Homo sapiens: one gene and its partner. The protein of the gene in region 1 interacts with the protein of each later gene in a biochemical or structural test. Each region holds a gene or a part of one and is shown on either strand. Other genes may lie near its edges.

Region 1 (3,552 bases):
CTTCTCCTGCACCACCACTTTGGCGTTCTCCTCCTCCAAGGCCCATATCTTTCGGAGCAGCTCCGTCTTCTCCCTCTGGCTAGCGCGAGCCTTGGCAGCCTCGTCCTCATATTGGCGGGTGAGATCGCTGACCTCCCTCTCGGTGGCCGCGTCCTTCTCCACCTTGAGCACCTCCTTGACGGTGATCTTGCCCTCGGCCATGGCCCGCTCCTTCTCTAGCCTCTTGAGCTTGTCCTGGAGGAAGCTCAGCTCCTCCTCCTGCTTCTCCCTGAGCTGGTCCTGGCGCTGGTGGTCCTCCTGCAGCTGCTGGTACTCTGCCTCCAGCTGGGGGTCATTCTGCAGTTTCACCACCTCTTTCTCTGTGACCTTCTCCTGCGCCCGGCTCTTCTCTTCAGCCAGGGCGGCCACACGCTGCTGCAGGAGGAGCACCTCTGCCTCCCGGGCGCCCTTCTGCCGCCTCAGTGCCTCCAGCTCCTCCCGCAGCTGCAAGACCTCATCCGCCTGGGCCCTGTCAGGCTCGATGCGCAGGACCTCCTTGACCACGTACTCCTGCCCCCCGTCTCTGGTCTCCTGCTCCAGGGCACGCAGCTGCAGCTGCAGTGCCTCCAGCTCCTCCTGCAGCAGCTGGTTCTTGTGCTGCTCCTCTGCCAGCGTCCGCTGCAGCTGCTGGAAGCTCTCCTCCAGCACGGGATCCGGCACCTTCTTGAGCACCTCCTTCCTCACCACCGATTCCTGAGGCCCCTGATTCCTCAAGGTCCAGATTTCTTCCTGGGTGCTCTTGACCTCGTTCTCCAGCTGCCGCCTCCGCTCAGTCTCCTCATCCAGTTCCTTCCTGATCTTCCACGCCTCCTCCACTCCAGAGTCCGGCCTATTCCTTTGCAGGGTCTCATGGGTCACTTCTACTTCCGGCTGCTGTGATGGAGAAGACAAGACAAGGTTAAAGCCAGGCTCTGGCAGCACATGTAGGGCCTGTCCCCACCTGGTCAGAGTGGCTGTCCTGTGGTCCCCAAGGGACTCCCTCAGTGCCAGTTCATGTTAGTTGTAGAGTTCTAGGGTTACTTTCAAAAAGGATCAAACAACTAGTTTGGGGTTTTTTTTAATCAGGTAAAACATTTTTGAGCTGTGGAAGAGTTTAAAATGAAACCACGGTCTCCCACCTCTGGTCCCCGTCCTAGGGCGTGTCTGTCAGCCTTGCAGATGCTATCTGTGCTCACACAAGAATATCTGTCTGTAGTATGTACCATGTGTTTATCTCTCCTGCACAAATGGTATTCCTGCTGCTCACTGCACTTACAGAGCTCATTCCAGCTCAGCACAGAGAGTGCTGCTTCAGGATTTACCAGCAGCATTGTTTCCGCTCTCTGGACAGACCGCAGTTTAGCCCATTGCTGATGAAGAGTGAACTGCTTCCAGTGTCTTGCTATTAAAAAACAATGCTGTCATCAACATCATGGACTTCAGAAAATAACATTCACTTTCTTTTGTTTCTTTCTTTTTTTCTGAGACAGAGTCTCGCTCTGTTGCCCAGGCTGGAGTGCAGTGGCACAGTCTCAGCTCCCTGCAACCTCCACCTCCTGGGTTCAAGCAATTCTCCTGCCTCAGTCTCCTGAGTAGCTGGGATTACAAGCATGCGCCACGACGCCCAGCTAATTTTTGTATTTTTAGTAGAGACGGAGTTTTACCATGTTGGCCAGGCTGGTCTCGAACTCCTGACCTCAGGTGATCCGCCTGCCTCGGCCTCCCAAAGTGCTGGGATTACAAGCGTGAGCCACCATGCCCAGCTGAAAATAGCATTCACTTTCAGCAGATGTTTACTGAGTTGAATAAGTTCTCATGTCAGTAGAAGCATTGGCTCGGGCCAGTCTTTGCATTGGCCCTGCCCAGAAACGTTAGCAAGGGGACACTTCCATCAATTCACAAACCATTTCTCTAAGACAGAGTCTGTATTTGTCACCTGTTAGAACAGCCTGAAGTAGAATTTCTTACTAAGATCAGTTACCTGTCTGAGGAGATTCAGAGCAAACTCCAGATTCTGCAGCCTCTGTCTGTTGATGGCATAAACTTCAGTGAACTTGGCGGCAAGTGCTGCTTCCTGCAGAGAAGAGGATTAGGAGAGCGGTCAACAAACAGGTGTCAACAGGGTAAGCAACAGAGAGCTAGACAGCGTGGACGTGGTTCTTGAGAAGTGTGGAATTTGGGGGTAGAGGCATAGCTCTTGCCCACTCCTGCCTGGAGTTAGACTGTAGCCTCACCGGTGGAGAGAAAAATGGATCTCGAGGCAGAAGATCCAGGCCAGGGTCTTGGCCACACTGACTTTGAGCAAGTCTTTCTGCCTCTTAGAGCACCAGTGTTCTCTCTTGTGTGTACAGGAGACTAATATCAGCCCTCCACTGTACTTACTGAGGTGAGCAAAACAGGAACTTCCCAGATCCATGGTTCTGACCCTGACACTTCTGTTCAGCTGCATTTTCAAAAATTTTTATTTCTTAAAGACAGAATCTCTTTCACTCAGACTGAAGTGCCATGGTGTGATTGTAGCTCACTGCAGCCTTGAACTCCTGGGCCCAAGTGATCCTCCCTCCTCAACCTCCCAAGTAGCTGGGACTACAGGTTTGCACCACCACGCCTGGCTAATATTTTTGTAGATATGGGGTCCTGCTTTGTTGCCCAGGCTGGTCTCCAACCCCTGGGCTCAAGCAGTTCTCCCACCTCGGCCTCCCAAAGTGCTAGGATTACAGGTGTGAGCCACTGCGCCCGGCCTTGCTGTCTTTCTAGGCATATTGATGTCACTGCCCTAGAACAAGTTCCTCATCTCTTACCAAACCTGTTTGCATGCAGGAGGGCTCTCAGTGGCTTCCCTGTTGTGTGTGCATCTCTGAGGCCAGCGTGTGACACCATGCTCCCTGGGGAGCAGGGCAGCTTGGCCTCCACCTCAGTCCCGAGGCCGCCTGGCCCATGGAACTCACCTCTTCCTTCACTTTGGTGGCAGGAGATTGGAGCCTGGCTCTCTTGCTCACGTGGCTTCTCCTTCCATTCTCCAAGTCGAGAAGAGACCTTAGTTTTTCTGCTTCTAACTCATAGTCCTGCATGAGGGAGAGACATGGCAGAGGGGAGATTAAAACAGCTGAGAAGAGACAGACATGTTCCTGTACCCCTTCAGGCTGACCCAGACCTGCCCTGTGCCATGTGCTGGTTTTATAATCTGCGTGGGTCTTCCTCACAGCTGCACCCTGCAGTGATTTCCAGGAGGTTTTGAGAATTACTGATATCTCAGCAGTACATAGCTCCATCACTCAGTAACATATGAGACAAGAAGTGCCCCCTGAATTCCCCTCCCAGCCTTTCTACATGCCTAGAGATTTTCACATTCTGCTGCTGCTTTTAACATCGTACCATAACCCTGTCTCACCTTGCCACCACCTCTTCTCATGTTTACCAGCTTGCTGACTTTATAATCCATCAGGTGGATGTGTGCTGATTCACGCAGCTTTCCCCTTCCACTGGACACCAGTCCTTTCCAGCGTACTAGTTTTGCTATTGTAAATAGTGCTG
Region 2 (3,552 bases), on another chromosome or scaffold:
TTAAACTATTCACCTTGACCAAAGAGAAAGAAACTACAGGCTTCAAGATGGTCCCAGAATCCCCAGCGTCTTGTGGCATGCCCAAAAGGTAAGTTCTGAGAATAATAATAGTGAGGTATGCAAAGATGAGTGGAGAATATCAGCTTCTTTAAAAGGGGCGCTCTGTTCTTAATGACTCATTACTTCACACAATCTGTAGAGCAGAGGTAATATTGGGAATGGAAGGCCTTTACATCCCCACAAAGGTAACATAGCGCTTGCTGTGGTGGAAGAGGACAGAGGAGAAGGGAGCTGGGCAGGACACCTCCTCTCCCCAACTTCTCTCCCCTCTCCAGCCTGACTGGAGAAGTGGGCAGAGGCCCTGGGGCTCTTTGCTTGCAGGACTGCCTGTTCCAAGCTCCATCTGAGCTCCTGTGCTGAGGTCTCAATTCATCAGAAAGTAAAGGGGCAGGGACCTTTCAGAAGCCTGACCCAAGGGTCTGACATGACCCAGCCAACAAAGCCCGCAGAATAAATTTAGCCCCAATGATCTTGTACCACACAGCAGCCACCTGCTCAAACAGTTGTTCTTGCCAAACTCATTAAAACTATGTTCAGCTTCTTTCATGTTTCCAGCAGCCTAGGACTCCAAGGGGGTAGCAGGAGTGCCCACAGAGCACAACCTCGCCTCCACCACTTGGATCAAGGTTGCATCAAACAAGCAAGAATGTTCTGGTGTCGTGCAACCACACGGGGAGGAAGAAGGCGTTCCTTTCCCTGATCTTCTTCCAGCTTCTCCACAACTGAGATGGGCCTGGCAGGGGATTTGGAGGGTGGTGGCAGGGGAACTGGAGAGTGGTGACAGGGGTCAGCAGAACTCTTAGCTGCTATGAATCGTCAGGTATGATCTGCCCCTGTGGATGGCCACCCTGTTGGCTTCGGGAAAGATGTCTTTTCCTAAATCATTCTTTCTGAACCCACTATGCCTGCAATTCAAGGCACCAAGGCAGTGCAATGACTGCTGGCGGTGACACTCCTGCCATATTTTGTGCTACTCACCCTAATATGCAGCCCAAACACTGAGACCTATTTCCACGTGCAACATCACTTAAAAACCCATTCTCTGGGCTCAGCAGGCAGAACCCCCTGATATATGGCAGGGGGTAAGAAGCCAGGGACCAATGTTCAGGCAAACCATTAAGGTATGGAAAGAACAGAGGAGTTCGTGTTGATTTCACTGTCCTTACCTACATAGCCCAGGAATGAATATATAGATTTATAATACATAAAGAAAACATGCAGTGAATGTGGCCAAATCCCAAGCTTGACCTTCTGGGCCCCATATGATATGCACGGTGAGCAGGCAAAGTTCCAATGAGCTCTTGCCACCTGCCAAGCCCATCTGCTACAAACACACTGGCAGCCAGGAAGTCACACATTATAACCCTATAGGATTCCTAAAAAGTGCCAACAGTCTTCTTGAGGAGTAAGAGGGTAAAGGGATGGAGAGAGGGCCTATCATGCCTTACCCTGGAAAGATATGTGACCAGGCTCCTGTTAGATGAGTCAGGTCAGCTCAGACTTCTGGGGTGCATCAAAGAGGTGTTGGAAAACCACTAAAAATCATGAAGTGCACAATGGAAGCATGAAATTAACCAGAATCAGAGACTTGACTTAAGAGGTCCTTTGAAGGCATTTTCCAAAGACAATGGAAAGATAGTAAATAATCCCCAATCAATAAGTAATTTCAACCACACTGTACTGATCTGTAAGTAATCTCTTTGTGACCACACATGACAATTTTCAGGGAGAAGACTGAATCCCCATCCCATGACAGGTTAGGAAAAGACACACTCTATTTTAACCCCTTGATCTGGCTGGAAAACCATGGCGCAGGCTACTTGCTGAGCTCTGTAACTTAGTGGCAAGCTAACAGAAGGCCCGAGATTCCCCAACATTTTGTTCCATCCTCTCTGCCATTTGAAAATTCTCTTTCTCAAAAAAGATAAAAGTCTACTTAGGAAAACAAGAGCAGAGGCAGAATGAATTGAGAAGGGGATGCCAAAAGACAGAACTTACTTTGCAAAGCGACAGTGTCTAGCGTCTCCACAGACTACTCACACATTCAATTCACTCCAAAGGTAATTTATACTTCACGAAAGAGTTTCCAGTGTTGTAGTAATGGTAGATGAGAGCTGTCAGGCCTTAAGTAACAGCCTATTTTAATGCCTGGAGAGAAAAATACAACTTGCACGCATTTATGGAAATGTACAAAGGTACAGGAAACCGACCCTTGCCTCCATCCCCTTCTAACAAATGCAGTAGGCAGGAAGTCCTCCACACCAAAGAAAGATGCTATCAGCACGTCCACTTGCATAGGAATACAAATACAATTATTTCTTTAACAAAGAAAACTAATGACAGTAGGCATACATCCTACTGGGCATTAAGTATTTTGTTATATACAGTTAACACCTATTTGAATTGGGTACCATAGCACTTAATTGTTTTGTTCTATGCATAGCAAAGCAACCAACTGAATCTAATATTAGTCATTCATCAGCTGATAAAACTTTTTCAGAGAAACAAACTGCTACATTTTCCCCTCAAAGAACAGCAAGCATTTTAAACACATTTTCCCAGAGATGTTATGCTGAGGAAAACAGCTTAGAAATGTTACTTTAAACAAATCCCTTCTCTGGCTACCAACAACAAGATGAATTGGAACAAATGCTTGGCTCTGTTCTTTCCAAGCCTCCTTCTGTCCACCTGTCAAAGGCTGCCGTGACCCCACCGACCCAAAAGGCAGCCTCTGGAGCTCTGAAATGTGTCACCCTGCACGGACGCCCTCTGCACTGTACGCCAGCATTCTCATTAAGGATTATCCAACTCAGTTGCAGGAGGGAGAGACAAGATGGGCTGGCTGCCAGGAATTCTTTCAACACAGATTCCGAAAGAATATCCTCCGAAGTGCCGAAAGCCCAGATTTTCAGCAGTTCACTTTCTAGATTCTGTTACATAGCAACCATGCCAGCTCACAGGGAGTACCAACCAAGTTAATATTTTGTTTAAATGACACACTGCATTAACCCGCTAGGAAAACCCAAATTTTCTTCATCAAAAGGGGATACCAACCTACCTACTGCCCGTTGTCATCCCTGGAACAAAACAGCCAATGATGGATTGATGAGTTTGCTTCATTCATTTAAAAAAAGAATTTAAAAAACAAAAACAAAAACATTTGAAAATGAATCTAACAGTCTCTTGGCAGAGGAAGCAAAAGGTGACTCTTTCCCAAAACCATTTGTACTAATATTGTTAAAGTTACATTAGCATGCATTTAATATGTGCATAATGCCCTTTCGTTAAAAGATGACTTACACGGTTGCATTTTGAAATGCAAAGATACTCGTTTTATTCAAAACCTTGATTTGAAAACTGATAACTCAATAGCACTTAAACACTCTTAGGGTCTGGGCCCATTGAACTGCACCAACACAGACAAAATGAAAACACAAGACTAATTTGGAAGAACAGTCAGAAACCCTGAGGAGCTGAGCCTCTGGGAGCCTC

The links. Proteins that work in one complex are often made in the same cells at the same time.
Region 2: the proteins of PPL (region 1) and KAZN form a complex in vitro, tested with the Homo sapiens proteins (one study listed by BioGRID).

What each region holds. Positions count from the first base shown.
Region 1 is NC_000016.10:4,885,136-4,888,687, forward strand, and holds part of PPL (periplakin), read right to left. Parts: intron 3,084-3,552; coding exon 2,967-3,083; intron 2,093-2,966; coding exon 2,000-2,092; intron 913-1,999; coding exon 1-912. UniProt on the Homo sapiens protein: Component of the cornified envelope of keratinocytes. May link the cornified envelope to desmosomes and intermediate filaments. May act as a localization signal in PKB/AKT-mediated signaling.
Region 2 is NC_000001.11:14,601,661-14,605,212, reverse strand, and holds part of KAZN (kazrin), read right to left. Parts: intron 1-3,552. UniProt on the Homo sapiens protein: Component of the cornified envelope of keratinocytes. May be involved in the interplay between adherens junctions and desmosomes. The function in the nucleus is not known.